Linked DNA regions of Homo sapiens. The protein of the gene in region 2 purifies or fractionates together with the protein of the main gene of each other region. This does not show direct contact. Each region holds a gene or a part of one and is shown on either strand. Other genes may lie near its edges. The genes, in order: PIP4K2C, POC1B, TPM2, CEP63 and EXOC7.

Evidence for each region.
Region 1: the proteins of POC1B (region 2) and PIP4K2C purify together in Homo sapiens (affinity purification with mass spectrometry; 2 studies listed by BioGRID and IntAct, with this or other methods). This does not show direct contact.
Region 3: the proteins of POC1B (region 2) and TPM2 purify together in Homo sapiens (affinity purification with mass spectrometry; one large-scale study listed by BioGRID and IntAct). This does not show direct contact.
Region 4: the proteins of POC1B (region 2) and CEP63 purify together in Homo sapiens (co-immunoprecipitation; one large-scale study listed by IntAct). This does not show direct contact.
Region 5: the proteins of POC1B (region 2) and EXOC7 purify together in Homo sapiens (affinity purification with mass spectrometry; 2 studies listed by BioGRID and IntAct, with this or other methods). This does not show direct contact.

The regions. Positions count from the first base shown.
Region 1 is NC_000012.12:57,588,240-57,594,893, reverse strand, and holds the start of PIP4K2C (phosphatidylinositol 5-phosphate 4-kinase type-2 gamma), read right to left. Parts: upstream 3,703-6,654; 5' UTR 3,605-3,702; coding exon 3,431-3,604; intron 2,675-3,430; exon of another isoform or gene 2,577-2,674; intron 870-2,576; coding exon 772-869; intron 1-771. UniProt on the Homo sapiens protein: Phosphatidylinositol 5-phosphate 4-kinase with low enzymatic activity. May be a GTP sensor, has higher GTP-dependent kinase activity than ATP-dependent kinase activity. PIP4Ks negatively regulate insulin signaling through a catalytic-independent mechanism.
Region 2 is NC_000012.12:89,470,548-89,476,722, forward strand, and holds part of POC1B (POC1 centriolar protein homolog B), read right to left. Parts: intron 1,729-6,175; coding exon 1,621-1,728; intron 1,183-1,620; coding exon 1,067-1,182; intron 1-1,066. Other genes in the region: POC1B-DUSP6 readthrough, read right to left, coding at 1,067-1,182, 1,621-1,728.
Region 3 is NC_000009.12:35,683,568-35,688,489, forward strand, and holds part of TPM2 (tropomyosin beta chain), read right to left. Parts: intron 2,214-4,922; coding exon 2,080-2,213; intron 1,985-2,079; coding exon 1,867-1,984; intron 1,773-1,866; coding exon 1,702-1,772; intron 1,573-1,701; coding exon of another isoform or gene 1,241-1,572; coding exon 1,165-1,240; intron 984-1,164; coding exon 921-983; intron 749-920; coding exon 679-748; intron 1-678. UniProt on the Homo sapiens protein: Binds to actin filaments in muscle and non-muscle cells. Plays a central role, in association with the troponin complex, in the calcium dependent regulation of vertebrate striated muscle contraction.
Region 4 is NC_000003.12:134,558,642-134,564,553, reverse strand, and holds part of CEP63 (centrosomal protein of 63 kDa), read right to left. Parts: intron 5,405-5,912; coding exon 5,125-5,404; intron 3,178-5,124; coding exon 3,019-3,177; 3' UTR 1-3,018. UniProt on the Homo sapiens protein: Required for normal spindle assembly.
Region 5 is NC_000017.11:76,084,949-76,091,123, forward strand, and holds part of EXOC7 (exocyst complex component 7), read right to left. Parts: intron 5,534-6,175; coding exon of another isoform or gene 5,381-5,533; intron 5,224-5,380; coding exon of another isoform or gene 5,096-5,223; exon of another isoform or gene 4,794-5,095; coding exon of another isoform or gene 4,727-4,793; intron 4,373-4,726; coding exon 4,227-4,372; intron 3,976-4,226; coding exon 3,823-3,975; intron 3,615-3,822; coding exon 3,516-3,614; intron 3,175-3,515; coding exon 3,112-3,174; intron 2,773-3,111; coding exon 2,706-2,772; intron 1,945-2,705; coding exon of another isoform or gene 1,906-1,944; intron 1,198-1,905; coding exon 1,132-1,197; intron 850-1,131; coding exon 729-849; intron 462-728; coding exon 366-461; intron 1-365. UniProt on the Homo sapiens protein: Component of the exocyst complex involved in the docking of exocytic vesicles with fusion sites on the plasma membrane.

The DNA.
Region 1 (6,654 bases), about 32 Mb from region 2:
GGTTCAAGCAATTCTCCTGCCTCAGCCTCCCAAGTAGCTGGGACTACAGGCATGCGCCACCATGCCTGGCTAATTTTTTGTATTTTTAGTAGAGATAGGGTTTTGCCATGTTTGCAGGCTGGTCTCGAACTCCTGACCTCAAGTGATCCACCCGCCTTGGCCTCCCAAACTGCTGGGATTACAGGCATGAGCCACCACGCCTGGCCCTTGTGAGGTCCTATAAAAACATATTATTTCCATTTTATAGAAGAGGAGACTGTCTCAGAGTGATTCAGTGACCTGCCTAAGTAACATGGTTGGTAAGTGGTATAGTAGAGCCAGGATCTACTACCCATCCAAACAGCAGCATTTCCCAAATCTCAAGCAAGTCAGAAGCATTCTAAAGTCAGCAACAGACACCACTGTTTTGAATGGCATCTTCTTTTCCTAGGAGGGCTTAGTAGAGAATTCAAGTTTTTCTTTCAAGGAGTCCCTGTCAGAAGCTAATGGTTCTCATGGCATCTCCAAGGTCACAAGCAGAAAAAGAGAGAAAGAGCAGGTAATGGTATCTGTACATATTTACTCTATGGAATTGCCAGGCTAGAGGAGAGATAACACTGATTCATATAAGGATATAGGGAACACCAGAAATTATTCTCATGGTTTCCTTGCACAAAACTAATTTCTGCATTTGGGAAGGATGTTAAATTTTCAACTCACTGAAACTTTTAAAATTATTTATTACTCCTTTCTGGGAAGGTTGACATGAGAATGGCAAGGATCATCACTTACCTGTGGAAAAGGTGATTGTTGACCTTGATCTTGGAGCTGGCCTTAAAGTCATCTGGCAGCAGCATCACCGGGGGAGGCACCTGGCTGAGCTCATTGATCTGATAAGCCAAACCATGAATAGGGAAGCCATGAAGAAGGGTGTGGAGAGCTACCCATACACTGTGTCTGGGCAGCAGTCATGCAAGGGCCACTCAGACCTCATTCCTTTAAAAACACTGGCTATGCATATGCTTGACAGAAGTGAGAGAATGTGTCTAACCCTTCTGCTGCCCAAGAAGGACTACAGTAAGCAACCCTCACACACAGCCCCCAACACGCCCACCCCCATGGAACTTCATGCTCACAACAGTCATTTTATATTAGGCTAACCCTGTAAGCAACTCAGGACTATTTTTAAAGCTGTGAGAAATTCTAGAAAAAAAAAAAAAAAAAAAAAAAAAAAAAAAACTCTGCAAGCTCAAGGCAGCTACATGTTCCATTAGAAAAAGAAAAAAAAAGGCATTTTAAAAATGCACAAGAGTGTTAATGGGATTCTGTGGGGCCAACCACAGCAAAAAGGATAAATGTCCATATCCTGCAAAAGGCATCTCTTTGCAAACAGGACCAGTCTTCCTAGACCACTCTGACCCAGTTGTTTGCAGTAGGCCCCCACCTGTCTAAGGTGTAAGGTAAAGGAAGAGCAGCTGATTTCAGAGCGAATGCAGGCAATCAGAGGATATGAGCTCATTAGGCGTCTGTTCCCTAAAGCCAAACTAATCCACAGCCCAAAGGACACAAGCATCACATGCTCTCCTCGGCCCCCAGGATCTGCAGTCTGCTAATTCAGGGTAGAAAGGGAGCTCTAGTACTTAAAAATCCTGAGCCGTGCTTTCTCCTTGGTGTTGCTACAGTACCTTTCACCTGCCTTTGTTACTGCATGACTCTAATCACTAGTTTATGTAAGTTCTCCCATCTAGATTGTGAGCTCTTCAAGAACAAGGGCTCATTCTAGTCGTCTGCATCTTTCAGGTGTCTAACTAGCACAATGTTTGGCACACAGTGATCCTGACATGTCTATTAATTGAATAAATGAATGCCTTGCCTATCCTTACTAGATCATTCCACAGAGGCTATGAACTGCAGTCTAACCTAAATCACACACACTGCAGTGCAACCAACTCCTCCCGTTCTCAGTAGAAAAGGAGGACAGAACATATCCCTCCAGATTAAAAAAAAAAAAAAAGCCACTTGAGACTCCCAGCCTAAAATTCAGCTATAGCTCCTCCTGCCCCCTCCTCCCCACCTGCTAAGCAAGCTGAATCATCACTAAGACATATGTTCAAGGAATTTCTCCATTCCAAACACTTGAAGTAGATGTGTGTTGGCAGAGGGTGGGGTGCTGGGGCTAAAGTATATATACCTAGTGAAGCTGAGGTAGGTCTTACATGTAACTCCCCCAATCCTTAACAAGGGAAAACCCTCCCTGTTAAGCATCCCACAGGGAATGGATGAATCACCTGGAAGGTACATATGAGAGGCAGCCCTACCTCCATCAGCCTTCCCCATACCAAGTGCCTTCCACTGAATACTCACTAAGAGCTTACCACCCAGAGAGCCACAAATCCAAAAGAGATCCGACTGGCCACAAACAACATTCTTAATTTTTGGTTAAGAAATTCTTTACCACAAATTAAAAATGTGACAAAACGCGTATTCTTCCTCACAACTTCCATCTCCACAGCCTAGCCATGACTATATTCAAGAACGCTGATTTCGAAAATATTCCGTGTCACATTCAAGATAACTGCATTTCTCCCACTCCAGACCTGACGGAAGATGGGCAATGGCTGTGCTTCTTTCAGCTGAGGTATCCTCAGGAAAGGGGATGGAGGTCTCCTTGGCCTCCTCCTGACTCCCAGAGCAGTTTCCTGCTTCAAAAGTTCACCACCATAGTGACCTCAGGAACAGAGCCCCTCAGCCTTCTCTTTGGTCAACAATCGCCACCACCTACACCAAACACGATCGCTCTAGCCAGCGATAAGGATGCAGTTAAGACCAAAGGCATATATACATAAGTCCTGAGAGTGTGCAACTTCTAGCTCAGGGTGGGGTAGCTTCTCTAAAATGCTGTACCTCTGGAAGGGAAAGGAAGGGACAAGCAGGATTAGAAAGCCCAGGAAACCTGGAGCTTCCCCGAGACAAAACCAAGATTCAAAAGCCAAGGACCGGGGCTGGGAAGCAAGGTGGAAAGCAAAGTGAAAGAACCTTTTCATCCATCTACTCCCCTCGGCCCCTCACCCTCCACCTACACTCTCACCAACAACCACCCGAGAAAAAGCCACTCCCCCTAATGTCCTCCCCGCTTGCGCCCGGTCCTGGCCAGTCCGCGTAGCCTGAGGCTGAAGCTAGACATGGCAGGAAGGAGTCAAAGCACAGGGAGCTGGATTTCACGGGGGGAAGGTGGAACTAGAGTGGAGCAGTAAAGAACTGTTGGGGAGAAAAAAGTCCACAGTCAGAAAACCTGCTGGGGGAACACCTGGGGTTGGTGGGCAGGGACCAAGACAACCCGGGGGAGGGGAGTGGCACTGCGTGGGGCTCCGGAGGCTGGAGCCTGGAAACAGGGACGCCTCGGAGCCGAGGGGTTTGGACAGGGCTGCGGGGGTCTAGGGCTGGTTCTCACCGAGTGGGCTACGCCCCACAGGAACACACCCACCAGCGGGTCGGCCGCCCGGAACACCTTCACCTTCTGCTGCACGAAATGCTTCTTCTTGGTCTTGGAGGCGAAGCCGAAACCTGGGCCGGGGCCTGCTGTCGCCGCCGATACCGTGGCTGGTGGGACCGAGGAGGACGCCATAGTCTCCCGCGCAACCGACCAAGTGGAAGCCGGAGCCGGCAGCTATCCAGGCGCCCGACCCCGGAAGCGGCGCTCACCTGCGCTGCTGTCACGTGACCGGAGGCCGGACAGCGGACGCGCGAACAGGGCGAGGCAGGACGGGGCGGGGCGACGCTGGCCCCGCCCCCCGGCGCCTGCCTGCCTGCCCCAATGTCCGCTCAGTGTGTGGGCTCACCTGGCGTGCGGGATCCCTGTAAGCTGACGAAGCAAGCGGCCCGCGAGGCCCCTCGAACTGTCAACTAGGAGACCGTGGTGCGGCCTGGGCTGGCCTGATTGACTCCCAAGGTCTAGGGCTTCTTTGCTGCAAAGTGGCCGCCTTCCGGCTTTGCCCAGTTTCTAATGAGTAACCTCGGACCTGATGCTAATGCGAAAGCATTCTTACCGAATGGGGGTTGGGAAGGGGAGGGTTTTGGAAACCCAAAATTCTTACCAGTGGTCTCAAGCGTCTTGAAATTCATTCATTCATTTAACAAGTATTTATTGTGCACTTAGTTGTACTAGGTCCTGTTCTAGGGGCTGATTTTCCTTTTATTGAAGCAGGGTATAGGACAGTGACTGCCCCGAAGTAGTTGGGAGTCTAATGGCACTGGCTGGCCAATGGAGATCAAGTTTGCAGTATGCAAAGTATGAGCTATCCTAGAACTGTGTATGAAGCAAAGACAATGATACAAAGAAAGGAAGTGTAGCTGGTCAGGGAAGGCTTCAAAGAGGATAGAGACTTTACTGAGTTTGGAAGGGTGGGTGGAGTTCAGGAATAGAGGTTAAAAGGCTGTCTAGACAAAGAGAACAGCATACAAAGACATGGAGACAAGAAAGAACGAAGCCGGGCGCGGTGACTCACGCCTGTAATCCCAGCACTTTGGGAGGCCGAGGCGGGAGGATCACCTGAGGTTGGGAGTTCAAGACCAGCCTGGCCAACATGGTGAAACCTCGTCTCTACAAAAATACAAAAATTAGCCGGGCATTAGCCGGGCGTGGTGGCGTGAGCCTGTAATCCCAGCTACTCAGGAGGCTGAGGCAGGAGAATCACTTGAACCCAGGAGGCGGAGGTAGCAGTGAGCCGAGATCACGCCAAGCAGAGATCACGCCAAGCAGAGATCACGCCACTGCACTCCAGCCTGGGTGACAGAGTGAGACTCCATCTCAAAAAAAAAAAAAAAAAAGCCGGGCATGTTGGCAGGTGCCTGTAGTCCCAGCTACTTGAGAGGCTGAGGCAGGAGAATCGCTTGAACCCAGGAGGCAGAGGTTGCAGTGAGCCCAGATCATGCCATTGCACTCCAGCCTGGGCGACAGAGCAAGACTCTGTCTCAAAAAAAAAAAAAAAAAAAAAAAGCCAGATGCGGTAGCTCACGCCTATAATCCCAGCACTTTGCGGGGCCGAGTCGGGAGGATCACCTGAGGTCAGGAGTTGTGGGCAAAGGATTACCCAGGTGCCAAGGCAAGAGACTGAAGGCACAAACTGTTGCAGTATAATAAAGAAAATAGTTAGAATAAAGAGTAGTTACAATACAAATTAGATATAGAGATGATCATGGACAATTATCAATCATCAGTATAAACATTATAAATCATTAGCTTTTAATATTACTCTTTGTGGCATTACTAATATAACCTAGGAATAACCGGCAGGTATAGGGTCAGGTGCTGAAGGGACATTGTGAGAAGTGACCTAGAAGGCAAGAAGTGAGCCCTCTGTCACGCCCGCATAAGGGCCATTTGAGGGCTCCCTGGTCAAGCGGTAACACCAGTGCCTGGGAAGGCACCTGTTGCTTAGCGGACCGCGAAAGGGAGTCTCCCTTTCCGTGGAGGAGTCAGGGAACACTCTGCTCCACCAGCTTCTTGTGGGAGGCTGGATATTATCTAGGCCTGCCTGCAGTCATCCAGAGGCCTAAACCCCTCCCTTTGGTGCTGTGCTTCAGTGGTCACGCTCCTTGTCCACTTTCATGTTCCTCCTGTACTCCTGGTTCCTCTTTGAAGTTCTTAGTAGATAGCGGTAGAAGAAATAGTGAAAATCTTAGTCTTTGATCTTTCTTATAAGTGCATAGAAGAAAATGCTGACGTATGCTGCCTTCCCTCTCTGCTTTGGCTACCTAAAAGGGAAGGGACCCCTATCCCATGATCACGTGATTTGCTTGACCTTATCAATCACTTGGACAACTCACCCCTCCTTACCCTGCCCCTTGTCTTGTATTCAATAAATACCAGTGCGCCTAGCCATTAGGGGCCACTATCGGTCTCCGCGTCTTGGTGGCAGTGGTCCCCAGGCCTAGCTGTTTTCTCTTTATCTCTTTGTCTTGTGTCTTTATTTCTTACAATCTCTCGTCTCCGCACACAGGGAGAACACCCGCTAAGCCCAGTAGGTCTGGACCCTACAAGGAGTTCGAGACCAGCTTGACCAACATGGTGAAACCCCATCTCAACTAAAAATACAAAATTTAGCCGGGCGTGGTGGCGCACACCTGTAATCCCAGCTACTCAGGAGGCTGAGGCAGGAGAATCGCTTGAACTGGGGGAGGGGGGGTGCCAAGGTTGCAGTGAGCCGAGATCCTGCCACTGCACTCCAGCGTGGGCAACAGAGCAAGACTCCATCTCAAAAAAAAAAAAAAAAGGATCACTCAGGCATGTTCCTGGAGGATGACTTGAGTATTGCAAAAGTTCAGGGAGAGATAATGAACTAAAGCAGTGGCTGTTGTGTTTGAAAGAAGAGGGTGGCATCTAAAGATGCAGTTTGATGTCAACTTGGAAAATTCATATGAATGTGGGGATTGAAGGAAAAGGGAGGCATTGAGAGTGAGTCTAAGGCTTCTGGCTAATGATGATGATGATATCAGAGAGATGATGGTGACATGAAAAGGAGCAGATTCAGAGGAAGGTGAGTTCGGTTTGGAACATGTTTGAGGCATCTGAGGTCAGCTGGACACATGCTCCCGCAGCTGAGCAGAATGTTCTGGACTGGGGATACGGATTGAAGAATTGTGGAATCTGCAGGCATGGATGACATGTCTTAGAAA
Region 2 (6,175 bases):
AGATACCCCAGTGCCTTATTAGCAATAGGTTGTAAACAAGAGCACTGTTTCCACAACAACAAAACTCTATATGGCTCACTAAAACGAGTATTTTGGCATCACATAGCTCTAAGCTTCCAGTTAGAGAGCCAGAATAACTTTAAAAATGAGACTGTGTCACGGAAAGGTAATCTTATTGACCACATTACTATAAATTCTTTGGATATATTGCCAATAAAACTGACAGTTAATCATCACCAGCTCAGATAGGGTATATAACCTAGTCTCAAATTAAAGGTAATAACTAATTAGTGGCTTGGGATTAAAGGGAGAAAAGTGTGGAGACAGTTTGAAACGGGCACAGTCCTGCCATCATGCTTGAGACTTTGTCTCCAGACAGTATCCTTCCAACAGGAGGCAGTATAACACAATGATCAAAAGTTAATTTTTCTATGCACTGTGTAAGCAGGAAGACCTAAGTAGTTCTATTGATTCTTTGAGCAAGTTAATTACCCTATTTAAATCTCAATTTCCTTATCTTAAAAATGTGAGTAATAATGATACCTCCTAGGAATATTGTTTAGATTTGGCACAGTGTCTGCTACATAGTAAACACTGGAAAAGCTACTATGTTTAATAATCATTTCGATTTAATATAAATCCAATATAAACCAAGAAAATTCACTTCTCTTTTAGTTCAATATCAATACATAGGCATAGTAGGTAGTTGTTTTCTACCAGTTATAACACCTATTTGTGCTCACGTAACTCCCTGTGATTCAGAATTCAGTCATTTCTATCCTGACTTCTCACACAATGCTGATAACCAGAATTTGAAAATCTCATAGCAACTTCTTTTTTTTTCTTTAAACCAGCCCTCACATCATTTTTAAGGTCTCTTCACTTCCTGCTGTCCTTGAGCTTCTGAGACCCTGCTGTTGATGGGAGCTAATTATACTATTCTCTAGCCTGTTCCAAGGCAGCCCATGACCCCAAGTAAGACAGCCAAACCACACCAACAAGGAGAATCAGTCCTTCCAAAAGGAGTCCATTCGGTAACTGAATTTTTTGTTAGGAAAATTGTTACCTTGGTAATGCTGTAGTAATTTGTTCACTCTTACATCCCAGACTTTCACAGTTTGATCAGAACCTGCTGAAGCTATGCATGTACCACTAGGGTTAAAGTCCACAAAATTTGCAAATCTAGGAGGAAAGAATAAGATGACCTAATATTTCAATTTCTTTTTTTTTTTTTTTTGAGACGGAATCTCACTCTTGTCACCCAGGCTGGAGTGCAGTGGCGCAATGTCAGCTCACCGCAACCTCCGCCTCCTGGGTTCAAGTGATTCTTCCACCTCAGCCTCCCGAGTAGCTGGAATTACAGGCACATATCACCATGCCCAGGTAATTTTTGTATTTTTAGTGGAGACAGGGTTTCACTATGTTGGTCAGGCTGGTCTCAAACTCCTGACCTCAGGTGATCCGCCTGCCTCAGCCTCCCGAAGTGCTGGCATTACAGGCGTGAGCCACTGCACCCGGCCATATTTCAATTTCTTTACTCATTTATTTATTTAAATTGTTATAATCAAACGTCTCCTTAGAAAACTAACCCACATAAATGCACAAAGAAAGTGTACTTACCCAACGGAATCTGAGAAGTTATTAACACATTGCTTATTTGTGGTATCCCAAATTTTAATAGTTTTATCCTCACTACATGACACAATTAGTCTTCCATCGGGTGAAAATCTAGAAAGAAGAAGAAAGAAGATGTTTTATGTGAAAGGCTCTGGAGAGTCACCACCTCACCTCTACACCACAAATAAACCAGGCTGTAAATATTAAATACCAGAGACCACTGTTACCATCCCATGCAGTAAAGTCATATTCTGCAGCCAAGATCTTCATCATGACAAACAACACTGACAGACCATTAAAAGGTCAAAATATGCTATGTAGACTAACCAAGTTGCTTTTTTCCTTTTATTCTTTTATTAAAATAATTTTGGTTTTATTGCATCTGCTTTGGGGTTTTGATTCAATTCTGTACTCACTCTAAGCCAAGTGCCTTGTATTTTTAAAAGAACTCTCTTCTATTTCTGTCACTTGCCAGCATTATCCATATGATTCAAGAGAGAGCCTTTATTACTCATCCGACCAAGCTTGCAGTGAAACTTTTTGTAAGAAAAGGAATGGTGTGTTGAGAATTAAAATTAAGTGACATCACCAACAAAAGAACCTAACTGCCCATGCCTGTAACTTCCTGGACTTGGGGAGGCCAGAGAGCTCCAATGGACTGAAAATAGGACAATTCATTTATACAGAACAGAACAGAAGTTCCTTCATGGAGAAATCTATCATCCACACGCCCCATTAAAAAGCAAATGAGAAAAATCTCAGACATCTTGTCTGCTGTTTTATGCTGTCTATTCCTTTAATATCCTTCCCAAGGTTCTTTTTTTATTGTTTGGCCACAATGCCTTTTAAATATAAACAGAAAAGCAGAAGACCACAGAGAAAATAAAAACAAATTTTAGACTATTAGAAAACTATGAATAGTATTTTTATTATTAATATTTTCACAGTAACAAAAACCAAAAAAGACAGATTTGGGTCACAGACTATATTTCAATTTTATTTGTAGTTTCCCTCTATGCCCACAGTAAAGATTACTATGAGTCATCAATTAAGGGTGTGGAATATAATTGAAGATTTTTCTTTTTGTTCTCTCCCTACTCCCATTCTTAAGGCTGACCTAAAATTAATTCTTTGTGACAGAAACTTTGCATCTGGCGTTCACAGATTCACACAGAAAAAAGGCACAAAGAAGTTCCATGTGAAATAATATTTAAAAATCAAGAAGTCTGGGTGCAGTGGCTCATGCCCGTAATCCCAGCACTTTGGGAGGCTGAGGCAGGCGGATCACCTGAGGTCAGGAGTTCGAGACCAGCCTGGCCAACAGGGTGAAACCCTGCCTCCACTAAAATAGCCAGGCATAGTGGCAGGTGCCTGTAATCCCAGCTACTCAGGAGGCTGAGGCAGGAAAACCACCTGAACCCAGGAGGCAGAGGTTGCAGTAAGCTGCGATTGTGCCACTGCACTCCAGCTTGGGCGACAGAGCAAGACTCGCCTCAGAAAAGAAAAAAAAAAAAAAAAAAAAGTCAAGAAAATAACCTTTCAAGGAAAAATTTTCCATGCTGGGTAGTTTACCCTGATTTTACAGTAAGTAAAAATTTATTAATATTTTCTTTCAGAAAATGTGAGAAAGATTCAAATCTGAAGGGCAGTATTATAAAAAGGCTCCAAACAGAGGAAGCTTATTATATATAGAACCTGGGGAAAAAAACCTACTCAGTATCCCCACGGATAAACTTGGCATAATAATTATAAAAAACTGGCCAGGCGCGGTGGCTCATGCCTGTAATCCCAGCAGTTTGGGAGGCCGAGGCAGGCGGATCACCTGAGGTCAGGAGTTTGAGACCAGCCTGGACAACATGGTGAAACCCCATGTCTACTAAAAAATACAAAAATTAGTGGGGCATGGTGGCAGGTGCCTGTAATCCCAGCTACTTAGGAAGCTGAGGCAGGAGAATTGCTCGAACCCGGGAGGCAGAGGTTGCAGTGAGCCGAGATTGCACCACTGCACTCTAGCCTGGGTTACAGAGTAAGACTCTGTCTCAAAAGGAAAAAAAAAAAACCTGTAAAAAACTAATGCAAGGGATCAAATTGTCTTACTTACTAAGCTTCTTTTTAAAAAATATTACTTAATGTGACTATGTTAAGTGACCAAAATATTTCTATGAGAGGACTTAACTCTTACATTTCAAGAAAGCAATTATGGAGAAAAATATTTAATAAAATGAAATGCTTAGATAATAACAAAATATAGAAGTACTTACCCTATGACATCAACCAAATACTACCACCACCATCACATCATTATCCTACCCACATTCCTTGAGCACATGTGTCCTAGAACGGTTATTAACACATTACATGTAGCAACTCATTTAATTTTCAGCATAACCCAGTAAAACAGGTGCTACTGCTTGTCTCAATTTACAGTGAAGAAACAGAGGCACATAAAGGATAAGTAACTGCCAGTGTTATCAGGTCAGTGGGGAGAGGGGTCTGGATTTGAATCAGGCAGTTGTTTCCACAGCCAAATCTCTGAACCACTCTGCTTAAGTCTGACAAAAAGGAAAGTGTCTTCTACTGGCCCAAATTACTTAGAGCACTGGAAGTTCTGTGTGGCTTCTGTGTAAACAACAGAAGGTTCTAAAGTGGAGAGGAACCACGAGGCAGTGCTGTTAGGAGGCTATACACCATCCTTGAATAAACATCTGTGTGTGTTGCCATAAGCTGTAGGTAAAACAGACATGGTCCCTGTCCTTGTGGAGTTTGTGGGAAAAATTTTCACCCACTGATTCATTCAAAGATTCCCTGAGCACTTGTCAGTACCTGGCACTGGGCACTGCTGTGGGTAGTAGGAATATAGCTGTGAATGAGACTGGCAAGATCCCTGCCCTTATGAGGCTTTTGTTCTAGGGAGAAGGGAGGGCACACAAAAAACATAATTTTAGAAAGTGATAGGAAAAAGGGTTGTTAACAAAACAGGTGCCAATTTGTTACCAGAAGCTCCATAGAGGAAACAGGATTTTAAAGAAACTTGCAAATGAGGAAAAGTGTTATCTTGGTCAGCTAAAAGTGCCTCCTGAGCAGGAGGGCCCATAGCTGGGAGAAATTTCCCAGAGCAAAATAAATGAAGGGATGTGAACCTCGAATGAGTTAAAGTACAGGCAGTGGCTGGGAAGAACCTGGTGCCAGAAGGAGGCGAGGTTTCTACCATCAACTTAACAGAAACTAAAGGGGACTGAGGTTAAGGCCTTCCCCCTGCTCTGGTCACTGCATTATAATCCTGCATATGCTCTCTGTATGTGTTTTTTTGCATTTGAGGTGGCTGAAAGTGAGAATGATGATTTCTATTTCCTCCTCCTCCCTTTTATTTTTAATTAGATACATCAAAAATAGGTTAGCACCAATAAAACAGGCTTCTCTTTGCCTTGACTTTGATTAGGAAAGGTTAGTCCTTTATCGTCAGGGCTCAAATAACATCTAACTAGACTTTTAAGAATTTAAAGAGGATATAAAATTTCTACTAAGACATTAATAGATTTCTGACTCTCTTAATTTAGTACCACCCAACTGCCTTTAAAAACGTCTACAAAGTGTGTCACCAAGATGAATATTACATTAGTCAATAGTGACTACTGGATCAGCAAACATGGACATTCGAGAGTTTAAGAGGCATATGAGAAGTTAGCTGAACTACTACTGAATTCCTTAAACTTTACTGGTATTCACTCAAAAGAATGAGGGAATTCTTTTTTTTTTTTTTTTTTTTTTTTGAGACAGGGTCACCCAGGCTGGAAAGCAGTGGTGCAATCTCGGCTTATTTCAGCCTCGACCTCCAGGGCTCAGGTGATCATCCCACCTTAGCCTCCCAAATAACTGGGATTACAGGCTTGTGCCACCTTGCACGGCGAAGTTTTGTAATTTTTGTAGAGACAGGGTTTCGCCATGTTGCCCAGGCTGGTCTTGAACCCCTGGGCTCAAGCAATCCTCCTGCCTTCACCTCCCAAAGTGCTAGAATTACAGGCATGATCCACTGTGCCCAGCCCAGAATGAGGAAATTCTTGAACTTATTTCTAGTAAAACTGATTCACATGTCCTTGAAAATAGCCCAAATTATATAACAGGAGTCTTTTTAACTTGGAATCTACAGAGTTCCTGTAATTGTATGTAAAAATTTTATGTCTATATTCATAGTCATAGTTACTTGTTCATTACAGAACCAAAAACGTCCATGAACCATGAAAAGTCTTAAAGTGCTTTCATAAGGCCACGTGTGGTGGCTCATGCCTGTAATCCCAGCACTCTGGGAGGCTGAGGCAGGCAGATCATTGAGGCCATCAGTTTGAGACAAGCCTAGGCAATATGGTGAATCCCCATCTCTGCTAAAAATGCAAAAATTAGCTGGGCCTGGTGGTGCATGCCTGTAATCCCAGCTACTTGGGAGGCTAAGGCAAGAGAATCAGGGAGGCGGAGGCTGCAGTGAGCCAAGATCGCACCACTGCACTCCAGCCTGGGTGACAAAGTGAGACTGTCTCAATAGATAGATAGATAGATAGATAGA
Region 3 (4,922 bases), on a different chromosome or scaffold from region 2:
AAGGGCAAACCTCCTAAAGCTGGAGGTAAAATTGGAGCTTGCCTGAGAAGGCTGGAAGCGAGAGAAGTGGGAAAGTGAAAGGGTTATCACAGAATAAAAAGGAAAGGCAACTTTAGCCACATCATCATTAACAATAGAAATAGCCACAGACTCACAAATATCTGGATGTTTGCTTTTGTCAAATCTAGCTTAAAATAGTGTTTTCTATTAGTGCTGTCATGCAGACCTAGATGTTCAGTCCAACAGCTCTCTAGTTAATAAGCCAGTCTCTGCACTAGAACTCTACTGCGTTACACTCGGGGACGGAATTGTCTATAAGGGTGCCACTCAGAGTGTGGCATGAGGACCAGCAGCATTGGCAGTACCAGAGAACTAGCTAGAAATGTAAATCCTCCAGCCCAAAGTCAGCAATCTCTTTGGGGCAGAGTCAAGGAATCTGTTTTTAAAACTCTCCCAGTGATTCTCATGCATGCTGAAGTTTGAGAAGCACTGGAGTTGTTGCGCCGTGGGCAGCTACAATTACTTGAATTGTAGACATGGCCCACAGAGTTGGGGAGTTGGTAGGGTCCTAGGTGGCCCAACCCTAGTTTATTGGTGGCAAATAAAATGGGATGAGAAGGTACAGGACAGACTGATAATCACGGCAGGTGTGGACCTACTTATAAAGGCTTCTTTTACCTTCTAGGTCATCGATGGTTTTCTCCAACTTTGCCACAGACCTCTCGGCAAACTCTGCTCGGGTCTCAGCCTGGGGGTAAAGGCAGGATGGGAGAAATGGCAAAGAATTAGGCCCTCCCACAGACTACTGCCTAAGTCAAGCTTCTTGTCCATCCCAACCCTCAAGTGTCCTGCCACAGGCCGTCTCTGGCAAGGATTAGGGTGGCTTGAGGGGAGACTGGGAACTGGAAGAGGACTCTCACCTCCTTCAGCTTCTCCTCCAACAGTTTGATCTCCTCTTCATATTTATCTTCTTTGGTGGAATACTTTTGGGGACACACACACGCCATCAGTACAGCGCTACCACAGATCCTTCATTTCTCCATTGTACCCCGTAGGCTCCTGGTCATCTTGCCTCCGTTGAACACCCAGCCCCTCCCTGCCTTGGGCCCCTCACCTCCCTCCCCTGTGGGACCCCATCCTCACTGCCCCTCTGCTCCCCTCTACCTTGTCCGCCTGGGCCTCCAGGGATTTCAAGTTGTTGGTAACAATTTTCAGCTCCTCCTCTAGGTCCCCACATTTACTGCAGGGGGTGTGTGGCGGGGGGGGCAGGGTGTGAGGGCACAGCGAAGCCAGACAGTGGAGATGGCACAGCAGGGGACGGGTGGAGGAGAGAAGAGAAGAGCAAAGTTGTGAGAGTGACAGCAGGCAGGGCTCAGAAGCCCCAGGCCCTTCCTGATCCCCAGCAGCTGAGAAAGAGCAGCCTGCGGTGCTGAGACGGAGGGAAGGTGAGCTGAGAGAAGGCGCCATTGCCCAGAAAGGTTCAGAGGGGTCACTACCTCCTCCTCTGAGGCCATCAGGGACTTGAGGGCCTGGTCCATGGTTCGAAGTTCCTCCTCCAGCTGTCTGGCTCGGCTGGGGGCAGCGGGCAGGGGTCAGAGAACAGGGCCTGTCCCTACAGCCCCAAGCCTAGGATGCTACCTTCCCACTGTGTGGAAGGCCCCAGGGCCAATGGGCTCACTTGTCACCCCCGGGTATCTTTACCTCTCGGCCACCTCAGCCCTCTCCTCCGAGCGCTCCAGCTCTCCTTCCAGGATCACCAGCTTCCTGGCCACCTGTGGGGAGTGAGAAAGAGAGGGTAGATCAGTGGAGAAGGACTGGGCATGTTGCAGGCTGGGCAGCGAGCAGGCAGAGGGGCAAGGCTGTCACCTCTTCATATTTGCGGTCTGAATCCTCAGCGATGTGCTTGGCCTCCTTCAGCTGCATCTCCTGCAGTTCCATCTTCTCCTCATCCTTCATGGCCCGGTTTTCGATGACCTTCATTCCTCTGAAAGGCAGGGAGAGGGTGAGCGTAGGGTCAGGACCAGCAGAGACAGGCTCCCTTCTCCCTCCCGGACCATCCTCCCCGAGGCCCCTGACCACCTCTCGCTCTCATCAGCCGCCTTCTCGGCCTCCTCCAGCTTCTGCAGGGCTGTAGCCAGGCGCTCCTGGGCCCGGTCCAGCTCCTCCTCAACCAGCTGAATGCGGCGGTTCAGGGAGGCCACATCTGCCTCAGCCTGTGGGTCAGAGGTCAGGGGTCAAAAAGGCCTTGTTAGCCTTGGATAAGGATCAGAGAGGCTCCAGAGGATGGCGAGATTCTTCTCAGAAAGAACTGAGGCTTCCTGGTTTCTAGACATTCTATGTGATTTTTCCCCAACCAATCATCTTCTGCCCAGACTGTGCTCCAGTAAAAAATGTGCATTCAGGCCGGGCATGGTGGCTCACGCCTGTAATCCCCGCACTCTGGGAGGCCGAGGCGGGTGGATCACCTGAGGTGAGGAGTTTGAGAGCAGCCTGGCCAACATGGTGAAACTCTGTCTCTATTAAAAATAAAAAATTAGCCAGGCATGGTGGCGCATGCCTGTAATCCCAGCTACTTGGGAGGCTGAGGCACAAGAATCACTTGAACCCAGGAGGCGGAGGTTGCAGTGAGCTGAGGTCGTGCCACTGCACTCCAGCCTGGGTAAAAAGAACGAAACTCCATCTCAAAAAAACAAAAAAATACATGCATTCCTTGCTTGACAAGCTCCGCTCCCCTGCTGCAGGGCCTCTCCTGCACTGTGCACAGTTAGTCTCCCAAAGGTCACCTGCACACAAGTCCTCCTGTTCCCTGTGGGAGCACTTCAAGTGCTGGGGCCAGGTCTGATGCAGCTCTGATTCCTACACAGCAAAGCCTGGCCCAGGTAAGGGGATGGGAGGAGAATCAGGCCAACCAGACATCACTGCTGCTAAGAATAGCCCGTCACAGAATCAAGCTCAGTGATACTGGGCATGGTGGTGCATGCCTGTCATCCCAGCTACTCCGAAGGCTAAGGCGGGAGTTCAGCTTGACCCCAGGAGCCCTGCCTGGGAAACATAGCAAGATCCCATCTCAAAAAAAAAAAAAAAAAAAAGTATCAAGTTCAGTGATGTCATCTGTCATCAGCTGTAAGGCAGACTCCCAGCAAGAAGCCCAAGAGGCAGGCCTATAAGGAATACCCATGGCTGTAGCAAGGGGCTCCCTGCCAAGGCCAGCAGAGAGCTGGGGGCAATGCAGGGGCAGTGTGAGGGATGTCTACTCAGCCCCTGGGCTTGCAGTAGGAGGCAAAACCATGGAGGTTTTGGAAAAAATCCATAAAAACTGGTCAAACACTGAGAAAAAGGGCAGAGCAAGGCGAGCGCCAGTAAAGGAAAATGAGAGGAGCAGGGCAGCCACGTGTTAAGAGCATCGGCTCTGAGTCAGATTGTCTTTGAGCCACGGCTCAGCCACTCAACACCTGTGTAACTGTGGGCAACTTATTTAGCCTCTCTAAGCTTCAGTTTCCTCCTTCACAAGTTGGAGTTAACAATAACAGTTCCTCCTTCTTAAGGCTGTTCTGAGATAATCCACTGCTTTTAATACTCAGTTAATCAACAGGACCTTCGGTGAGACTCATAAAACTAAACAGGTTCTCTTACTCCATGCTAGATCCACTGAATTGGGATGTGTAGGGCGGGGGCTTGGGAATCTTCTCTTTTTTTTTTAAAGCCCCCGAGTGATTCTGATGATAAGCCAAGTTTGGGAAATTGTAAAATAACATGCAGAAAGCACTGAGTACATTGCCTGCACAGGGTCCACATTCCATAAATATTAGGTTATCCCCTTTCTCTGTCAAAAACAAGGACACAGAGACCCTGAGATTTCAGAGTGGAAAGGAGAGAGGACCTGTGTAGGGAAAGGAGGTGGGGGGAGGGGCTGGGGGCAGCACTTGGACACAGCATAGGAAGCAGGTCCTTGGTCGGACTGTAGGGCAGGAGAAACAGCACCATATATAGAGAGTAGATGGTAGCTTGTCTTCCAGGTGCTGAAGGCACCTGGAGCTTGGCCACCTAGAGTGACAAGAGCCCATCATGGGCACAGGGCCGGATGACAGTGTGGAAGCATTCTGGGGACAGCATTGGGGGTTGGGAAGAATCACTGTGGGGGACATTGGAGTACTACCCTAGAGAGAGGTGAGACTGTAAAAGAAAAACTCTGCATGATGGTGGGGTGACAAAAGACTCTGGAAAGTTTGGGAAGTCCTGGGGTCCTCATCATGGGACTGATATGTGCCATTTCCTGCCTCTCAAGCTCTTCCCAGTTACGGGGGCGGCTCTCTAACCACAGGACAGGCACTACTGTCCCCATTAGAAAAATGGGAAGCAAGAGAGAGGGAGAAACTGAGGCACCATGTAAGTTGAGTGCTGTGTTCAAGGTCACCAGGAAGCTTGGGCAGTCTTTCCTATCTGCTCCTGGTGCTGCGGCTCTGCCTCCCCAGCTCTGTCCCTGTCCCCCCTGCCCCTCCAGCCCCCACCAGCAACTTGGGTTTCCAATCTTGCCTCCAGCTGCACTGGGCCTTGGTTATTTATAGAGTGTCAGATGCCCAGGGTTGTCTGTGCTAGCAGCTGCAGGTCAGCTCCCTCCCAAGTGCCAGGACTGGTGGAGAACCAAAACTGGAGGCTGGAGGTCACAGAAGCCCAACCCCTGGGGGGCTGGGAACATGAGCAGTCGACACAAACAGCTATGTCATCTCTGATGTTCAGACCATGCTTTATGCTAATCTAACCATAGGTTCATCTTAAAACAATCCTGGGTGGAAGGAAGATGGGGAAACTGAGGCAGAGAATGGGGAAACTACCACCACACCAAAGCCATATGGCCATTCTCCTACCTTAAGCTGGGGGTTGGGAATGGCAGGAAGTGAAGTCTGGTTGGGGTTGTGGGGTGG
Region 4 (5,912 bases), on a different chromosome or scaffold from region 2:
TGTTATGTGTTAGGCAGCATGCTGACTGAGGATGTAGGCAGGACTTAGCCCCTGAAAGACAGAAATCAAAGCGGATAGCAAAGTCTGGTCAGAGCCACACACAGGGTGCCATGACAGCAATGAGGAGAAACGTTCCCTGACATGGGTCAGGGGATATGGGAAAGCTTTGCCAAGCCAGATAAAGTAGCCAAGTAAAGGGGGAGTTTTAGGAGCACATGACAGGGTGTGGGAAGAGGAGACAAACTGAAGGACAGCATGCACACCAACACAAAAGAAACGATGTGGTGCACCTCAGGAATGGCATTTTCCATTGGTTCAAACTAGCTGAGCCTCTCCTAAGTGTTGGGCTTGTGCTGGGTGATGAGGATCCCACCATGAACCAGAGAAGCAAAGTCCTTGCCCTCAAGGAGTTTTAATTCTAAAGACAGAAATAGACAGTACAAACATAAATCAAGTAATGAAATGATTTCAGATAGTAGTGAGCACTATGAAGCAAGTAACACAGGCCAATGAGCTAGAGAAATGGGGAGAAACAGGTTTGGGAGGCAGCAATCAAAGAAGGCTTGCTCAGGAGAGGATGCCAGAGTGCAGGTCTGCAAGGGGGAAAACGCCAATCAAAGGTGAGGTAAGAGAAAGGGAATATTCAGGGTAAACTGCAAATGAAAGACCCGAACAGGTTAAAGCTTGCTGCACTCAATAAACAGAAAGGACGCCAGCATGGGTGGAGCACAGTAAAGGATGATGCAATGGGTGATTAGGCCCAGATTATTGACACTCTGTAGGCTATACTAATTCATTTGGATTTTATTCTGAGTGCAGTAAGAAGCCTTGGGGCTGGGTGCAGTGGCTCACGCTTATAACCCAGCACTTTGGGAAGCTCAGGCGGGTGGATCACTTGAGGTCAGGAGTTCGAGATCAGCCTGACCAACATGGTGAAACCCTGTTCCTACTAAAAATACAAAAATTAGCTGGGCCTGGTGGCATGCGCCTGTAATCCCAGCTACTCGGGAAGCTAAGGCAGGAGAATCACTTGAGCCCGGGAGGTGGAGGTTGCAGAGAGCCGAGATCCTGCCACTGTACTGCAGCTTGGGCGACAGAGTGAGACTCTGTCTCAATAAAAAAAAAAAGAGAAGCCTTGGAAGAGTCTGAAGGGAAGCAGTGGTGACACTGTTTCATTTACATTTCTAAAGGATAACTCCAGAAGCTCCCTGAATTACTGGTGTGAGTACTATCAGTTAGGAGGCTACTGCCAGAATCAGGGTGAGAGAGAAGTAGTCTGGATCAGGTGGTAGAAGTGCAGGAGGGAAACGGTTGGGTCTGAGATAAGATTCTGGGGGAAGAAATGACAGGACCTCCCAAATGACTGGATATGCGGATGTGGGTAAGGAAGGAATTATAAGTAACTCCTAGGAACTGGCAAACATAATGCTATGTCCTGATATGGAATCTTAGCAAGAGGGAGAATAAAGAGTTCTCTCTTGGAAACAAGATGTTTGTCAGATATCCAAGTGAAGACATCGCATAAGCAGCTAGGTATCTAAGACAGCAGCTCTGGGGAGAGGTCAAGATTAGTAATAAATGTAAGGGTCACTGGCCTATAGGTGGTATTAAGAGCTTGAGAATGGAATGGAAACTTCTAGGGAAGAGAATGCTGAGGGAGAAAACCCATGACAGAGCTCTAGGGGGCCCTCTGACTTAGAGGTTAGAAGAGGAAAAGCCATGAGATGGAGTGGAGGATGAGGTAGAGAGGAAACCAGAAGTTCCAGGTCACAGAAGCCAAGAGAGAGTCCAACTGTGCTGAATGATGCTCAGACACTGATTAGGTCACTGGTGAACTCAAGAGCAAGAAAGCAGTCTGGGGATGGAAGTGGTGTTGGAGAGGGTTAGGAAGAGAACTACGGTGGGGCGGGGTGAGGAACTGGAAAGAGTCACTGCAGACAACTCTTTCCAGAAGTGTTTGGGTGAAGGGAAGCAAACATACAGAGCAGTAAAAGAGAGGCATTAAAAAAAACTGAGGTTTTATTTAAAAAGGGGAAATAACAGGATGTTTTACGCTGATGGGAAAGATCCACTACAGAAAGAGGGTTCACAGAGGCCACACCCTTGAGCTGGCAAGTACACTACACTGACCTTTCTCATCTGTAACTGCACATTCTAGTTCCTTTGCTAGATCTATTTCCTGTGATCCTCAGATGCTGGCATCTTTCAGGGCCCCAAACCCAGCCTCCTGCTCCTCTCTCTCTCCACAGCCTCCCTGGTGGATCTTATCAACTCCCATCGTTTCAAATGCCTGCGGCACATCAACATCCAGATCTTTGTCTCCCATCTAAACTTGTCCTCAGCAGTGCAGACGATGAACATTTATTTCCAATGGATATTCCATGGGCACCGTGCATGACAGCCAGTCCCTTGCCCTCCCTGCCTCTCTCCTCTGCATGAGTGTTGAGCAAGAGAGGACTGCTTGATAAGGTTCTTTAGCACACCCCCCCCTTATTCACTACCAGCCTGACTTTACACACTACCAGCCCCTTGGCTAGGAGGGGCTACCAGCCCAGTAAATAACAAGCCCCGTTGGCTGGTAAGTGGCAAAACCAGTCTATCGATCCAGGTATGTTTGACCCCTAAATCCATGCTTCTACACATTTCCCCTAAAGAAAGTTCCTGCAGTTACTTTATTTTCAACATGTATCATAAAATCCTTATTTCAATTAGTACATAGCTATTCACATTTAAGTCAGCAAGGTAAGTATCACTTTATGATAATAAATATTCGTATGAGAAAAAAGTCTAGCAAAGTGGTTTATTCTTTCAACTTATTGCTGGAAGAAGTCCTTTAAACAAACCAGTGCAGAGAAAATGCCTATCAAAAGTATCAGTTTTTCAGCTTTCTTCACCACTGCTTTAGATGTATCATTTTTATAATTTTATCTCTTCATGTTTTTAAAGAGCTGCTACTTCAGATGACAGTAACTCTTTGGTGTTTATTTTTATTTCCAAGATAGTGATTTTTTTAAGAGGCTACTTTAAGGCTGTGAATTGTCTCACTGTCTTTTCACTCTCTCTTTTTAGTTCTTCAATATGGGCATCCAAGCGCTCTAGAATGTGATGAGACCTCAGTTCCTCCTCTTCCAAAAATCTGGTAGCTATTGAACCAAGGGGAGATACAGGCAAGGAACACTGGAAGAGACACAAATTTTGACATGTGTAAATAAGTAGAATATTATATTTCTAAGATACACTGTTCATGACATTTTCTAACTAGCAATATTAAAAGGTGATTTTTTTCCTCTGAAGATACTTTTTTGGTTTTCATCCTAATGACAAGAGCAATAAAAGAACAAAAATCAGTAAGTTCTGCAAAAATTAACACAGATCTCTCCGTTTCTGACCCAAATTGTAACAATGTAAAGTATCATATATTAGTTATTGGTCTGAAGAATGTTTCAATTTAGACTTATATATGCTTCCATAGTTAATGCCTATTATTTCAAACTCACTTTAAAAACCTAAGTATGTCACTTTTATTTTAAAGCACAAAAATTTAACAAAAATAAATTAGATGCCAGCTAAAATCAATTATTTTTTCTCCTCCAAATTTTCAGTCCACAGTCCCTTATCTGAAACCCTTGAGGCTAGTGATATTTCAGAATTCTGATTTTAGAAAGGTAACATAGAACATATGCCATATGCAGTCAATACTCATTCACAATAGCAGTAGTTGTGTTCTATAAAGTCACCCAAAACACTGAATTAGCAAACACAGAATTTTTGGCCCAGGGAAAATACACACATACAACAAATACACACACACACACATACACACATACCCCACACAGAGAGCATAATCCTAAATCCTAGAACAAATCATTCTGGTAGATTCTGTATTTTTTATTTCACATGAGAGACATGAGGTTCAGAAGTGGTAACTCTCCTGAGGCTGCCCCACTAACTGGTGCTGAAGCTGGGATTCAGACTCTATCCAGCTGGCATGGAGCTGAGCTTCTTTCCCTACACTGCGCTGTCCCGTCCATCTCCACCCTATGGTCACCTCCGCATAAGCAGGGGCAACAAGGCAGAGTGCTGCCTACTTCGACCTTGGCTGGGATTGTGCAAGTCGGTCACTCAAATTTTTTGTCACTCTGCATATGTCCACGAATTACTGTGGAAGTGCTGCGCATACTGATTTGGGAGTTACAGATAAAGTTTAGGGAGTAGACAAATTCACAAATACAAAATCTGTGAATAATGAGGATCAACTGTATTACCCCAGTGGAGTCTGAGGGAACATCCCATCACCAAACACACTGATATTTCTGAAGCAAAACACATGGATACTCACACTAAGTGGAATAGAGAAAGTCTATACATACTAACACATCAGTTCAGGCCAGGGAAAGTTCTGGTGCCAAAAAAATTTTGCTGCTAAACTTAGGAAGAAAGTGAAGTGAGGACTTATTTTGAAAAATAAAAGAAAACCTTTCCATGGACTTGGTAGCACATTAATAAGTCAGAAATACTGCACTTTCACATCTATATGGCCACAGCTGGTGACAGGAAATGAAGGGCCCATGGCAAGTGCTTTGGTGCAGAAGGCAAAAAGATGGTGCAGCCTGCCCAGCAATGGAAGGAGCAAGGGACCGGCATGGTGTCCAAGGCACATTCTGCCCTGAGGGCCACCATCTGTGACCCCCAAGCCATGCTCTGCACACATCAGAGGCACAGCCTTCCTCCCCCTCCACACTCCCTTTCTCCTTTCCAGCAGTTCCTCTTTTCCTCCTTCACTGCCTGTGCCTCAGGACTATCTTGGCATCCAGAGACAGTTCTTGAACTAACCATTCCAGAAGAAAATTGAGCATCACTGAAAAGGGCAAGAAGGGAATTTCCAATAAGGGTTAAAGACAAATGAATACGTATAACATATTTCAGAACATTTTGAAAAGTAGTCTTGGCCGAAAGTGTCTTCACAAGCAAAAACTGTATGACAGGGATACCTAAGAATAATGAAGAGTACTTATGATAAAAGAATCAGTAAGGAAAAAAAAATCACCTTCTTCACCCTTAAAATAAAAAATCAAAGCAAACTTAAAAAACTAACAAATTACTAAGATCAGAAAGTTTCCATACCGAAGATATAAACTCTTCTTGGTCATTCATACTCTCAGACATAGTGTCAGAAAAATTGGCTTCATTTGTATCTAGCGCTGAAGGCAAAGAATGAGTTTTACATAGAGAGTAGGAAGTCAAAGACCTGGTGGAGCTGCAAGGGCTGATTTGAGGACTCAGGGGGCTTAGCACCCTAGACATGGGGTTTATACTATCCGACGCTTGTCCTCTTGGAGAATGAAGATCTGTTTTGTAGTGCTCAGTCTTTATTCCATCATGTCTGTGCTGGCCATGGGTTGGCCTGGATGGTAGATTAGAAAACAAAACAAATAAAAAATTGTAGCAACTTTTCTCTTTCCAACAGAAATGTAGGAAATTTGCTTAATAGCCTAACTAATAAGGCTACAATTTACAAAATGAGCAACCTACTCAGATCAGAAAGAGATTTCTTTCATTCATTCAGGCCCCAAATATCCAATTCCAACTACCAAGTCCCTGCCCTCACACACTTATGGTATAGCAAGAAAGACAAACAAGCTGCCAGAGTAATCTAGTGTGGTTAGTGCTGGGACAGGAGAAGTGCTGTGCACATAAGAAGGCACCTAACCTAACTAGGGGATTGGGTGGGTGTAGGAGTGGAGGTGAGGGTGTCAGCAAAGGCTTTGGGTAGGAAAACATGTAAGCCATATAGTATGAGCTGAAGCCAAGTGGCTTTTCACCGAATGCTTATTTCTTACGGTAACAGCCTATAACAAATTGACTAAAAAGACAAAGGAAGCTGTTTATAAAAAGCCAAATTCTACTTCTTA
Region 5 (6,175 bases), on a different chromosome or scaffold from region 2:
GACCAGAGAAGCAGCGGGATCCTCACAGAGCAAGGCTCAGCCACGTTCAAGTGCTCTCGCGACCTTGCTCTTCTCCTAGGTAAACATTACCCACGTCTCTGAGAGCCAGCTCTTCAATCATTCTTAGCCTTGACACTTGGCAGACTCCCCTCTAAAGTGGCCATAGTGGGCCCCTAGGAGCAGGTAGTGGTAGAGGAGGGGGCTTCTCTCTCCACCCCGTGAGTTTGATTAGAAACCAAGTGGAGGATTAGGGTCCAGAGGACAGGAGTTCCCCGTGACCGACTCTGTGTCCTGAGGTGCTGAGAAGGAAGAGTGCGTGGTGGCACAGGGGCCCATGCAGGAGCAGGGCGGGCCCAGCCTCTCACCTGCGCTGGTAGGTCTGGATCTGCTGCTCAATGTGCTCCCGGTAGGAGCGCTCAGCAGTCTTCTGTGTCACTGCCACCAGCTGGATCAGTTCAGACCTGGGTCGGGGTAGGGGACAGAGGAGAGGAGGACAGGATTGGCTCCTCAGGCCCAAAGGCTGCGGCAATGCCGGGAGGGCCTCCCATTGCACCCCAAACTCCACAAGCTCTATGGCATCCCACCTTCCGGGTCCTGGGGTGGAGGAGACTGAAGCACCCCCTCCCCTCTCGTCCACAAGAGAAGGAGCCCAGGGGGGCAGGGGCTGGCACAGCTGCACAGCCGAGGGGAAGGTGAGAGCCGCAGACTCACTCCCGCAGGCCACTTACTTCTCCAGGGACTTGAGGATGTAATTGTAGTTGTTGTGCAGGAAGATGGCGCTCAGAGCTGGGTCCTCGTACACCTTGGACTTGCTCAGCAAGTTCAACTGCAGGTTGCCCAGCACTTTACCTGCACAGGGAAAAATGGGGCCACACCCACCATGGCAGTCTGACCCAAACGACCCCACCCCAGGACCCGCGAACGCGCTCCTATCCATCGCTCCTCGTCCTGCCTCAGGAGGCCTTAGCCCAACTCCCCTCAGCCTCTGAACTAGAGGTCAGGTTGTGGTTCCAAAGATCAGATGGCACTTAGGAGAGGGCCCTGGGAATAGCCAGAGAGCACAGACAGAAGGAAGGGAAAGGCAGGGCATGCAGGCAGCAGGGCTGCTGGTCTGCCCGGGAGAACACTCACAGATATAGGTGCTTAGCAGCCGCTTGCTGAACTCAGAGCTGTAGCTGGTGGCCGAAGAGCTGGTCTCTGTGAGAGGAGAAGTCCTGTTATTGCAGTGGCAGCAGCCAAGACCCTCAACGGCCCTTCCCCCAGGCCATGCAGCAGTCTGAGGGGACACTGAGACAGGCCCTGGGCTTCCTTGGGCAGAGCTGGCTGCCTGCTAAGCCACAGGGTGGCCCCTGCCGCAGGAAGCACCAGCCCTGGAGTTTTTGGAACCCAGAGCTGCCCTCTATGATGGGATGGAGCTGGCCCATGTCAGCAGAAAAGCTGGCAGGAAAAGAGTGAGATGCCAGCGCCCTGTCCCCTCCTGCCCCCACCCACCCTGGGTGGTTTCTACAAGGCCCCCTTTTTCCTTTTGTCAACAGCAGAGTCTTAGAATGGGCTCCCCACAGCCTCTCCACCTTCTCCCCTACATTCGAACATCCCCTCTACCAGACCCTACTGAACAGACGAAGCTGCGGCCTGCACAGTGGGGAAGGCCGAGTGGGGACAGCAAGGCAGGGAGGCCGGGCGAGCCTAGGGGGTGTATCCAGGGCTCTAGCCTGGGCAGGTGCTGCGGATAAGCTCAGAGACAGAGTGGCCTTGAAGGGAGCAGAGAGAGTTGAGAGCACCCCGAGAAAACTCATGTCCCCTCTGACTCAGGCTCCCCAGTAGGTACTGAGAGTCAGTCCCCAGGGAACCTCACCCACCAAGCTTCAGAGGGACAGGAGGGGGCTGCAGAACCGCACTGCTTACCTCGGGGGTCTAAAGGAATATTGTATGTGTCCCCAAGAACTACGGAGTGAAAGGCAGTGCACACAGAGGGGACAGAGGGAGAGACAAAGGAGGGAGAAAGATGCAAAGTGCAAAAAACAGGTTAGAAACGGCATGTCAACCCGAATTAAGCAGACCTCTCCCCACGACAGCCAAAACACAGATAGCAAGACACAGCAGGCGGGACCCTCTGAGGACCAGGGAACACCCTGGAAAGTAGAGAGCTGAGAACTGCAGGCTGGAGGCTGCCCACAGGCTCCTTGCCCCCAAAATGGGACGGGAGGAGAGGGCCCAGGGACCTCAGTGCTTGGAATGACCCAGAAAGGTGCTCTTGCTTACAGGCCAACCCCCTGAGCTCCAGTCCCAGGGCAGGGCCAGCAGGAAGACGCCCAGCGGGCCCTGAGACACTTGCTACCCTCTGAAGGCCAGCTGAGCGAGCCTGATTAGGAGAGCAGGCAGACACGAGAGAAGGATTTGGGAGGGGGGCAGGGGCAGAAAGGACACCTTCCAACCAACCAGCACCGCTCCCAGAGTGAGGACACTGCTTCCAGGGCGAGGACGGTCAAAGGGGCTGAGGGAGGGGCCAGAGGTCCAGTGTCTGGTCTTGAAAGGTGCAGGCAAACCTTGCTCTCCTGATGCTCAGCCCCAGGGACCCTCTGCTGAGCACACCTCAACCCCTCCACAGACTGGAGATACCTCCTCACTGCTACCTGCCCTCTAACCCCATGTCTCCAGGCAAGGAGGCGAGTGGGGCAGGGGGCCCAACTGGGAGGTACCAGTACCTTGGGAGGCCAGCATGGCGCCTGCCGTCTCCTGGAAGTCCAAAAGCTGCTGCAGGAAGAGGATGGCCTGGGTGGGAAGAAAACGGTGCAGAAGGGCAAGTGGCAGGCCCGGCCGACGGCCTCCCACAGCGACCCCTCTGAGTGCCCAGGGCCAGCCCAGGGCTGGGATCCGCCCAGTGAAGAGCGCGGCTGGAAACTTCATTTTCACTCTAGCCTGCCAGGAAAGGCCCTGTCTGCTAGAGACACTAAACATGTCACTGTCCATCCTGCCACCCAGGACTGCTCACAAAGGTGCGAGCGGCTCTGGGCCAGGCTGAGTCCCTTCCACCAGTACTCTGCCTGGCCCTGGGCCTGGGCCTGGGCCCTCCTTCCTCCCCTCTCCCTGGTGTCCTCAGGCAGCACCCACATTGCTGGTGAGCTCGTGTACGGTGCCGTCCTTCGGCATGTTGTACTCCTTGTCCGGGTCATTCTGTGGAAAAACAGCCTCTGGTTCCCTGAAGCAGCCCCCAGCCCACCCCATGCCCCAGTGCACCTGCTCATGGTGCCGCCTCCTGGCAGACGGGTGCTAGGACACCTCTCAGGCACAAAGGCTGAGCCAGGCTGGACCAAGGGGGAGAGGCCCTTCCCACTTCAGAGGGCTTGGAGGCCCCAGGAAGGAAAGGAAGGCACATGGGTGCTGACAGGCCAGTGGCGCAGCTGGCTGCCCCGGGACAACGCACCCTCTTGGAGGCCTGCTCTGAGAGTCCCCCAGGGCCAGGTCACTGTGGTGCTGGGCCGGGAGGGAGGGAGAAAGGGGAGGACAGCAGGGACCTTGATGTTGTCTGCGAAGTCCTCCAGCGCTTTGGCACCGATGGTCTCCATGGATGTGATGAGGCCAGGCAGCTTGTTCTTTGTGCTGGCAGCCGTGCCCTGAGGAAGCACAGGGGAGCCCCCAGCTCACCTCCAGTCGCTCTGTGAGCATCTCACTCACCCAGGGCCCTTCCTAAGCTGCTTCCATGCACCTTCAGAGCAGAAGTGTGGGACAGAGAATGGGGTTCTCCCAGGGAGGGATGGGGCGGCCACACCCGGCAGCACGATGCCTCCTGGCTGTGTTTTTGAGGGCCCCTCGCCCACATACCTGGAGCACCTGGTCAAACTCAGGCTTGGTCTGCTTGAGGTGTCGCAGGATGGGGAAGACGGTGAGCACCGTGGAGAAGTCGTGTCGCACAATGGCCTTCCGGGCAGCAGACACGATGTTCTCCCCTTCAAGCATCAGCCCATCCAGGGCATCCTGAGGGGGCAGGGAGACAGTTCAGGGAAGGGTGGGGCGGTGGGAGCTAGTTCTGGGCTAGTGGGGGATCCTTGCAGTATGTAGGGGGGCCAGTGTGCAGGAAGAGGGGTGACGGGGAGGTGGTGAGCGTCCACCCAGGACCGGTCCCCAGGGCACGAGGTGGTGGTGGTGGGTGGAGTTGAGGGCTGCAAGAGTCTGTTGTGACAGCTCTTGCTGGGGCTGGCTGCAGAGCCCCCGGGGCGGGGCGGGACCTGTATCAGGGAGTCGAAGGTCTTCTTCTGGTGGTGCTCGGGGATGATGTCGGCCAGCAGCTGGTACTCGCTCTGCGCCAGCTTGACGAAGGCACTGACGCAGTGGATGTAGGCATCGGTCTCCACGTCCAGCATGTCATCTCTCCCTGGGGGATGGCACAACTCTTGAGCTGCTGGTCTGGGGCCAGCCACACTCCTGGCTGGGGGCGGCGTGGGTCCCCCAGCTCCTGGCCTGTACCCCACACTGGCAGAGGATGGGGAAGAGGCTGACTGTTCTGGCAGAAAGCTGCAAGGGAGCCAGCAGGCCCCGCCAGGTTCGAGGGGAATAAAAGGAGCTGAGCCCAGCCTTTGTTCTGGCTTCATTCTCGGCTCTGCGCAGACAGTGGGATCAGACACCAGAGGCAGGAGAGTGACGGATGGAAAGATAAGGAGGGAAGATTCCTGAATCAGCGTCCTGGATAAGGTGGTTTGACCCCAGGACTGAGCATTCTGAGTTGTACCTGAAAGAGGGCAGCCCAGGGTGGGCAGGTGGCTGTGCCACCTCAAGGAGGCTGGCACTGGGGTCATCCATGTGGGCAAATGCGGGGCCTGTGAAGGAAGTGACCAGCCCAGTCAGGGCTTCTGGAACATCTAAGAGGGTGGTTGGCTGCAGCTTCTGAGGCTGGCTGGCATGGGGTCAAAATCTAAGAGGCTGGTAAGTCCCAGAGAGGAGGGGTTGCCAGCTGCCCCAGGAGGAGGCCAGACCCTATTACTGGAGGCCACGGCGGGGGCGCCTGCAGGCAAAACCGGCGGCAGAACTGCCTGGTCCTATGTGCCAAGGGATGGGCTCCGAGGGGATCAGAGCTCTGAATTGTTGCAGGAGGCGGACGTCAGGGCTCCCTGCCCTCAAGGGAGCCACCTTCCCTCTCTGCCTGCTTTCCGAGGAGCAGCGGCTTCTCCCCTTGGCCCAGGCCTGACAGACAGGCACGCACTCCCATCTGGAGAGAGGCAAGGAGACCTAGGCCCAAAAGAGAGAGAGTGGAGAGAGAGGCGCATAGGCCTGGCCCATCCTCAGAGCAGAGTGGGCCCAGCTGGGCCAGGCAGGAGCAGGCCATCCGGGGACCGCTGCGAAGGCAGTGTCAGCGGCTGCCCTCGGGCTGGGCTGCGGTACTCACCGGCCAGCGGCCCGTGCTTGTCGTTCAAGGCCTCGGACAGGTGCTTAACTCGGAAATCATGCTCGTGACCTGGCGAGATGTCGGCCGCACAAACACAAGCAGCGTTTATCCAGGGGCCAGGCAGGCCGCCCCTTGGGGTACAGGGAAGAAGCCCTTCATCTCCAGGAGGGGGACGTCAGATGGGGATGGGGAAGGGGGCATCGGAGAGGGCCCTGAGCCCCTCCTCTACCTCAAGCCACCTTGGGAACAGCCGTTTCAAGCCTGACTTCAGTGAGCACCCAGGACCGTCCTTAGCTGCTCATTTCCCCGAGCCTGGAGGCCCAGGGAAAGCGGAGAAGGACCAAGGAGGGGCTGAAGAGCTGATGCTTGGCCCCAGGGGGGTTCCCCACCTCGCTGTATTTGGGGAAAGCCCCAGTTTGCCTGTCCTCTGCTGCACACACTCCCCTTTCTAAAGATGGGAAGGCCGGGAGGCCTCGGCCAGCTGGGGCCTGCCACTGCTGGTCTGAGCGTGAAAGGGCTGCCCCAAGACAAATAACTTTTTCTGAGTTCACACAGGAGACAAGGACAGAGACAGGGAAGGGAGGAGGGAAGCCTCAGGGAGGGCAGAGCTGCCATCAGCCAGAGAGGACCAGGCCGAGGGCTGCGAAACTGTCCCTGTGCCCGCTGAAGCCCGAGTGGCATCGGGGACCTGCCGTTCCCACCCTGCTCCCCTCAGGGTTTCTCCCGAGGCCCTCCTGGGGGAGGCTCTGCCCTGCCAAGTGCGTGGACACACAGTGGAGGAGGAAGGGACAGGAG